Linked DNA regions of Homo sapiens: region 2 is linked to region 1. The links come from fine-mapping of genetic effects on gene expression. A gene starts in region 1. The other region holds a variant in brackets. All regions are shown on one strand. Distances are from middle to middle.

The links.
Region 2: its variant is fine-mapped to the expression of FHL1 in whole blood (TOPMed, PIP above 0.99).

The regions. Positions count from the first base shown.
Region 1 is chrX:136,194,777-136,199,177 of GRCh38, forward strand. FHL1 (four and a half LIM domains 1) reads left to right here and starts at 2,271. Exons shown (of 6, transcript NM_001159699.2): 1 at 2,271-2,358. The coding sequence starts at 2,337.
Region 2 is chrX:136,054,410-136,058,810 of GRCh38, forward strand. No RefSeq gene overlaps it. Among named protein-coding and RNA genes, the nearest start is that of SLC9A6, 71 kb to the left of the region's middle. The variant C/T (reference allele first, on the strand shown) is at 2,627.

The sequences.
Region 1 (4,401 bases):
AAAGTTACCAACTATTCTTCCTAAGAAATTGTTTCTCATCATGCAAGGGGCTGTTTCTGTCTTGGTTTTGTGGAAGGTCTAATTCTGTGGCTTGAGGACATCTGCAGTAGGGCCAGATGTCAGAGCAGGTAGTGGTCATGCTTCATGAAGTTTTTAGGAGGGCACAGTTACCTGGTTGATGCAAATGGAAGTAACTGGAATAAATGCTATTGTTGCAGGCCCAAGCTCCCAGTCCATCCTGGCTGGTCATAGTTGACTAATTCATGGTGGTCAAAAAGTGATTCTCTTGTCTTTGAATTTTCTCTTGTATTTTAGGCAAAACAGATTTGTTTTTTGATACTTTCATAAAGCTGTCTATCCATATTCTGTTGTCACTTTTCAAAATGATCAGAAACCTAAAGAACTACCATACTTGCCTAAAAGAAGACACTTCCTGATGCATAGCTTGAAACAGGAATTGACTTCCTAAAGGAAAGTATTTGGCACACCAAGCCTATTGTTCACAGCGCTGCAAGAGAGGCATTTCAACATACATGGGCTCTTCCTAAAAATATAACTTGCTAAAATAAAAAATTCAGGGTTCATTAAGGTTAATCATCTAATAAAGTAAGAGAATTTCCTCTAGGTGAAAAGTTTCAGTTTATTTTAGGGGTGTGGTGTTGTTACAACTGGCTAATCTCCGCACCATAATTTAATCAGGCTGGATGAGAAAGAGACTAGAAAGGCGTGGAGCCAGAGCACAGTGTAGCTTCTCTTCTTTTCCCAGGCTTATTTTTTTCCTCTAACATGTAATAAATTTACTCGTAACAACCTGGCTTTTATTGTGTCATTTTCTAGCTAACTGGGAGTTACTGATGTCAGTTGTCTTTTAGAATAACTTTTCCTTAAACATTTGAAGATCGTAAGAATTGGGGAACTCATTCATTCATTTATTCATGGAGCATTTACTGCTCACCTACTGTGTGCTATAGGAACATGAAGACAAGCAAAGCACTGCCCTGGCCCTCAACCTGGTAGGGGAGATGTGTGAATAGGGCCAAAACCACTTAAACAAGACAGTGGCTATAAAGGTGTCTGTACCAGCGAGAAGGTCAGCTGCCTTCCTTGAAGTTGAGTGGCCAAAACCACTTTCAGGATTGCAGGTGGGACTATGTTTTGGAGGCTTGATGGATTTTTCAGTTATTTAGTTCATTCTTTCAAGGAATAGTTATTGAGAGCCTCCTGGGAGCTGGGCAGTGTTCTAGGCTCTGGGGCCACTGCAGTGAGCTCCAGTACTAAATCCCTGCCTTCATGGAGCAAAGCAGGAGATCAGACAGCAAGGAGAGAAATCAGTGCAATACCAGCAGACTTGAAGTAGGGAAAGGAACAACCATGACTCTGGGCACAGGGGACAGTGAGGAGGCCAGTGAGGTGGGAGTGAGGGAAAGGGGGCTAAGGGTAAGGCCAGAGAAGGAATGTGGAAGAAGGTCCTGGAGGGACTTGGGGGCTTTCTTTTCCTAGAACATGCTCCTAATAGCCAGCCCCCAGACATCTGATGGCCTGTTGAGCTATTACAACATTTTAGGTTGATGTCTTCATTTTCATTCATGTTTTTCCTTTTATTGTCCCTGATGCTGAAAAACAAGAGGTTGAGTTTGTGAGACAAAATGTCTTCATTGTGTGTGTGATGGGGATAGGCATAGTCTCCCCATCTTGTTCTGTGCTGTCTGCCGTTAAGGAGGTGGGGAGATTACGATCACTCTCCTTTCCTGTACAGTAATCTGCTGATCTCTGGAACATACTAAGGAGGACATAGAGTGACAACATCTATAATCCCCTTAATCTCTATATTCATACTGTCTAATCTCCTTGAGTTACACTGGTAACATAAGTCTATCTCTTAGAGTTACTTTTATCATTAACAGCACAAAAATGTATTATTTACAGGGCCAAATGCAAGCTCTTGAGGCATATAAAGTGGATTAATAAGGTTGGCTCAGCGTTAAGCTATGCCAGAGCCGAGTCCAAATTTTATTCCGGTACAGGGATGACTTTCTATGTGGCCTCTCTGGCTCTGGAGCTAATTTGGATGCTGAGTAGCCCCGCAGGTATTTATATGTAGCGTTTGGTATTTTTACTGGGTCCTATTCTTCTCCCTTGGATCACCTAAAATGGTTAAGAATTTTCTAGTGGGATTAAGGTTGTGATCTCTGGGGAGGGGTGGGACATCTGCTCTCGGTTATTTTTGTGTTAGCCGCTTCCCCTTAAATGTATGTTCACAAATGAGCCACAGCCTTATCAGCTGGGGTTGAGGGAAGACTGGTCTAGGTGCTGCTCCTGAACTTGGTCTCTGAGCCATGGCTTCCCATAGACACTCAGGTAAAACTTCATGCTCTTTATCTTATATTGAGCACAGTTTTGTTAGGGCAGTGAATCCGTCATTGGGCTAAAAGATGGTTTTTGATGAAATGATTTTAGTCTTGTCTGAATAGTAAATAAATTATAGCTTGTCTCTGTTTTGCCTTTGCCTTTCATGCTATTTCAAAGACAAAATATTGTTCAAGTACAATGAACAGTTTGAGTGATTTATTTTAAAAAGAAGTATATAAACATGTTACCACTATATTTTTACCTTTTTCAGGACATCTCATGAAACTATAAGAGATTGTGGGAGGAAAGGTTTTTCTGGTTAGGAATTTTTGGCTTTCTTTTTTATAAGATACAATTCTTCATCTTGACAGTGCTTTACATCCAAGGTGTTTGGAGAAGGTAAATCGAATGTGGAGCTGAAAGGAGGAACATTTGTAACTAAGAAAGTCCATAATGACCTAGCACATCTTCCCTTTTGCTGACAATGTTTTAAATCTTCCCGAAGTAACAGCTATGTTCCTTTTGATATGCTAAGTATGTTATTAATTGTTTTTAGCAGAAAAAGGGGCACATTTTGGACTCCTTGGGACATGAGCATTTTCTTCTGGTTTTGTAACCTTACAATTAAGGAAGCCCTTTGGCCATCGACAAGAAATCTATGAACTAGGGGCTGAGGGGCCAAAAGCCCAGTTATTTGAAGCCAGGAGGGTGGCTGTGGCCCTGTGGCCCTCTGCCTAAGTAACGGTTCCCTTTCTTGGGGCTGGTAAAGTCAGACGGTTAGATATAAAGAAGGCACTTCATCCTGTCTCCCAGCTTTCAGATTAAGGGATGTCATTATCTATGTTTTTTTTTTTTTTTGAAAAATCATTTTTTAAAACTCATTGCCTGTCAATATTTAAACAATGGAAATACTTTAGGAAATTTCTCTTTTTGGGGTTTTAAATATGCTGCAATGGAATGCCCTACCTTAATGAATTAATATGTAATGTCTTCCCTGTTCCCAAGTGTTCAAAAGTTGTCTGGTTTTTTTTTTTTTCCAACCCTCAGGAGCTGTTTCACAAACATGGTACCAAATGCTTGAGATTGTGGTTATCAGCCAAGATACACATTCTCTGGGTGTAGGCAAACTAGTCAGCTGTGCTAGTTGTCCTGATGAACCTTAAATGCATGTTACCTGGTAGAATAACTCTCATTTTGTTTACTAATTAAGTGACAGAATAGTGACAGAAAGTTTAAAAGTTTAAATAGTGACAGAAAGTTTATAGCATACCCAACCTTGGGTTTTAAATTGCACCAAATTCTTATGTCGTTCTTGTGTATGTAAGTCTGGAGGCTCTAATAACTGTGGCTAAATGGGACCAATTATTTATACCTTTTAGATGATTTTTGAATTCAGGAAATTGCATTTTGTATTGCATTAGGTTAATAGATTCATGAAAGCAGAGAAGAATCAGTCCATGAGACAGAGAAGTCCTCATAGAAAATCAGTGTTGCCCTGAAACGGGCTCAGTATGGGCAAAATAGAAGCTAGGATAATTGGATCCAAATCCATTTTTAGTGACTATCCATATACTGAGAGGACATTTCAAGGACAAAAACAATGTATACTCTTGACATTGAAGACTTTCTGTCTGCAAAATTATGTAGATTCAATTTCTTTAGCCTTTGGCCTTTCAAGTCGAAAACCAGGTTTGGGGTGTGGAGGGGGATCAGGTCACTTGCCATATTACACAGCCATCGATTCCCTTCACCAGCTGCTGCTCAGTGGGCCGCACAAGCCCGCCAGTCTTTTCTCAGGGCAGGGATGGAAAATGAGAGGGTAGGATGAGAGGAAAGTAATCCAACTGGATTGGCTTCTTAAAATACAGAAGATTTGAGTGAGAGTGAAACTGAACATTTTGTGCTTTTGATGACCACCAAATGACTACCTACTACTTCACCACAGCTGGAGAAACTAAAAACACATGCTCTTTTGCTGCCGGGTCAGAAATGCTTTTTTTCCCATATGAAAGAGGGGCTGTGTTGCACGTAATCTGTGCAACATTATGAAAA
Region 2 (4,401 bases), 140 kb before region 1:
ACTCCAGCCTGGGCAACAGAGTGAGACTCCATCTCCAAAAATAAATAAATAAATAAATAAACAAACAAACAAATAAGACAGGGTCTTGTTCTGTAGCCCAGGTTGGAGTGCAGTGCCATGATCAAGGCTCGCTGCAGCCTCAACCTCCAGTGCTCAAGTGATCCTCCCACCTCAGCCTCCCAAGTAGCTGTTTATTACAGGCACGTGCCACAAAGCCCGGCTATTTTTATTTTTTATTTTTTATAGAGACAAGGTCTCACTATGTTGTCCAGTCTGGCCTCAAACTCCTGGTCTCAAGCAATCCACCTGCCTCAGCCTCCCCAAGGATTGGGATTATAAGCATGAGCCACTGCACCCAGCCTAACCTAGCTTTAACTAGCACTTTCACATTACTCACTGGTGTAAGAATTTTTCCCAGGCCACCATGCTCAATATGTTACCAGGAGTGGCAATGTATGGAAGACATGATCATACAGGGGTTTTAGAAAGATCACTTACTGTAGCTACGGTGGAAAGGATGAATTATTTGGAGATGGGTAACAGTGGACACAGAGATGATGGTTAGAAGACTTGGTCAGGTGAGAGAGAATGGTGGCCTAAGCACAGGAATACAGTAGGGGTCGAAAGGAGGGGACAGATGCAAGAGACATCTGGTTGGTGTTGATTTGGAGACTAGCCGTAGTGAATGGGTGAGGGGGACAGGTTACAGTGATTACCAGCAACCTGGATTGGGCAAATCAGTGGATGGGGTGGTGGGAATCACAATTTTAGAAGATACCTATTAGGACCAAGAGATTGAGAGATGTAGCGGTCAAAGCACAAATCTAAATTTGTTTCTGGATCACTTAGGTAAGGGTAGGTGGAGCCCAATTAAGAAAAGAGGGGAGGGAGAGGAGGGCTAAGGGCCCCAAACAAAAAGGCTGGGAAAGGATACGAGTTTGAAAAACACCAGGGTTTGCCATCCATTCTCTCATTATAACCTAAAAACATCTGGAGCTTTTTGCTATGGGTGGTGTCTGGGGAAAAATAATTGCTTTAACCAAAGTACAATGGATGGAGGAAAAAATAAATTATTTTCCCTCCTTACGAAAAACAGAAAGCTACAGAAGTTCTCAGGGAATGATGGGTGGTGTTATTAGGAAACTTTCAAATGTACGTCACTCTGGATTTCAGTGTATTCACCTCCAGTCTGGCCAGAAGAATGAAAATATATGTTGTGGGCTCTCTAAAACACAGTTTTTAGCATTTTCCAGAAGGGTCAAGGGCCAAGGAATGAATACTGGATGTGGAAAGGAAGCCACGGCTAGTTGGCCAGTCTCTTTCTGGTTCTGTGTGGGTTTGCATGCAAGCTAAGAGACGGCTTCGCTTTTTGCTTTTCCTCAGAAGCTGTTGCAAGAGTTCTCAAGCAAATCCAATCTAGTGTCCAAGCCCTCTGGTATGCTGTTCTCAAACACTGTGTGCCACTAGCTTGCTGAAACAGTCCGTGCCTGACCTGCTGTCTTTATGGAAATTTGAACCAAATAGCAACTGTTGGGATGGAGGTCATCCAATAGGCATGGATACAAACTTTCAAAATATTGGGCTTTGCCTCACTAGAAGGAAATCAGCAAGTGACAGTATAACTGAAAAAAGAAAGCTTAGGGGTCTATATTAAGATGAAGGAAACATCTGGTTTTTGTTTTCTCAACTTTTATTAATTCATCAGAGGTGTGAGTCACCAGTACACTCAGCCAATGTTTCCAAAATGAAGTCCTCATTGCCTCCGGAGTGGCTGGGAAAAGTCACTTCAGAACTAACTTGAGAGAAAGATGATGGACAAAGAGATGTCTTTTTTTTTTTTTTTTTTAAGAAATGTAGTGCTGGTCCTGATACGTAGAGGTCTTTCCTAAAATTGCTTGTGTTAAACCCCAATTACATTCCTTCCTCGGCAGGAATTTATTTCTTCACCCAGAAACTGTAGGACTGATGTGCTGACCTAAAAAACATACATTAAACGCAGAACCTCCCCTTTACCTACAAAGGCAGTCCAGGACAAAGCTGGCTATTCTATGTAACAATGGAGCCCACAGCTCTGCTCTCATTACACTGAGCTCTGTTCTTTCTGACCCATTGGTAGGGATGTCAGTAGTGCGATTCCAAACTCTGTTTCATAGGAAACCAATGACTTGATTATACAAATTCTTCCTTCATTCCTTCTGTCTGATCTAGAAAGTCAGAGGTACATCAGGCATGCTGCCTGCACTCAAGGAGCTCACAGTCTAGTGGTGAAGATAGCCTTGTCATTAGATACATGGTTTTAGAGCTCAGCATTTATTAGATATGTGGTTTTAGAGCTCAGCATTTCTAGTTTGTAAATGTAATAGATCAAAATGGCCATTTTTTTCTTGTAGAGAACTTCATGCCATCTTTTCATTATGCCCTTTAGCAGGATCAATAGCTTATTATTAGATATTTTTGGTATTTCTCTGATTTCTCCACTGATTTTATGTGAACAAGCAGCATCTGTGCATGTAGTTTCTGTACCACGCATTTGGAGTCACTTCTAAGGATGAACAGAAGAACTTACAAGGTAAATTAAAAGCAAAAGTAACTGGCACACTGCTTCTATCTGTGCTGAGCCAGTTGC[C/T]ACTTCCTCTCCATAACCCTGGTATATTATAGAACTTTTTCTTGTTGTTAGGCTAAGGAAGAAACGAAAGGGTAGCTTCAGGCCAGTGGCTCACGCCCGTAATCCCAGCACTTTGGGAGGCCGAGGTAGGTTGATCACCTGAGGTCAGGAGTTCGAGACCAGCCTGGCCACCATGGCAAAACCCCATCTCTACTAAAAATACAAAAATTAGCCAGGCTTACTACAGAGGCTGAGGGGGGAGAATCGCTTGAGCCTAGGAGGTGGAGGTTGGTTGCAGTGAGCCGAGATTGTGCCATTGCACTCCAGCCTGGGCAACAAGAGCGAAACTCTGTCTCAAAAAAAAAAAAAAAAAAAAGATAGCTTCAGATACCACTCTAATTATACAGCATCTAGAGTCTGTACTTATAGACAATGATCCAATTCTATATCAAATAAAGCACAAACCAGGTCTTAAATATTTTAATGACATGACTGAATTCAAATAACAGTGTCTAGTTGGGTAGTTCAGGACAGAAATTTCCAGCTTGTGGGCATTGTAGTTTCTTACTGTAAGATAGTCTTTATATCGTGTCCCTTGTAGTAAATGAAAACTTCAATCTTTATAAAGAAAATGATGTCATCGGCTTGCCCTTTTCTCTAGTCCCCATCAGATTGAATTTAAATATGATACCGGCAAGAACAACAGAGTAAATGATCAGTTTGTGATGCATCTGGTCCAAGGGGGATTATTTTGACAGTCTGTTCTAACCATACAAACAATGTTTCCAATAAAAAGTTTTATTAGGTGTTGTCACAGATATAAATGTTTCATAAAGATAGCACTCCAGTTGTAAATCATACTTGAAATCATTCTAAAGTCACCTCATTAGATACCAAGAAAAACTATGTCTTTCACATAAATTCTGGCCTCGAGTGACTTTAAAAAAAAGGAGCAAAGAATAAAAAAACAAAACTCAAGCCCCAGCCATCTAAGGCTGAACTTTAAGAGAACTGACAGGAATAAGAAAATTTCCTTTGTCTGTTTTTGTAATCTTTTTAAGATCATACACTTCAAACATTTCATTATCTTCCTGGGTCCATCAGATTCTCCAGAAATGATGGAAGTGGAAAAATAATCTAAACTCACTTTTTAGAAAAACTCTGGCTCATTGGCCAAGCGCGGTGGCTCACATCTGTAATCCCAGTACTTTGGGAGGCAAAGGCTGGCAGGTCACCTGATGTCAGGAGTTTGGAACCAGCCTGGCAAACATGGAGAGACCCAGTTTCTACTAAAAATACAAAAATTAGCCGGGCCTGGTGGCGCATGCCTGTAATCCCAGCTATTCGGGAGGCTGAGGTAGGAGAATCGCTTGAACCTGGGAGGTGGAGGTTGCAGTGAGCTGACATCACACCACCACACTCCAGCCTGGGCGACAGAGTGAGACTCTGTCTCAAAACAAACAAACAAAACCTCTGGCTTATTGAAGTATGATTTATATGCCATAAAATTTATCCTTTAGCATATAGCTCTGTGAGCTTTGAAAAACATAGACGGCCGGGTGTGGTGGCTCACGCCTGTAATCCCAGCACTTTGGGAGGCCGAGGCGGGTGGATCCCCTGAGGCCAGGAGTTCGAGACCAGCCTGGCCAAAATGGTGAAATCCTGTCTCTACTAAAAATACAAAAAATTAGCCTGGCGTGGTGGCAGGAGCCTGTAATCCCAACAATTCAGGAGGCTGAGGCAGGAGAATGGCTTGAACCCAGGAGGCGGAGGCTGGAGTGAGCTGAAGTGAGCTG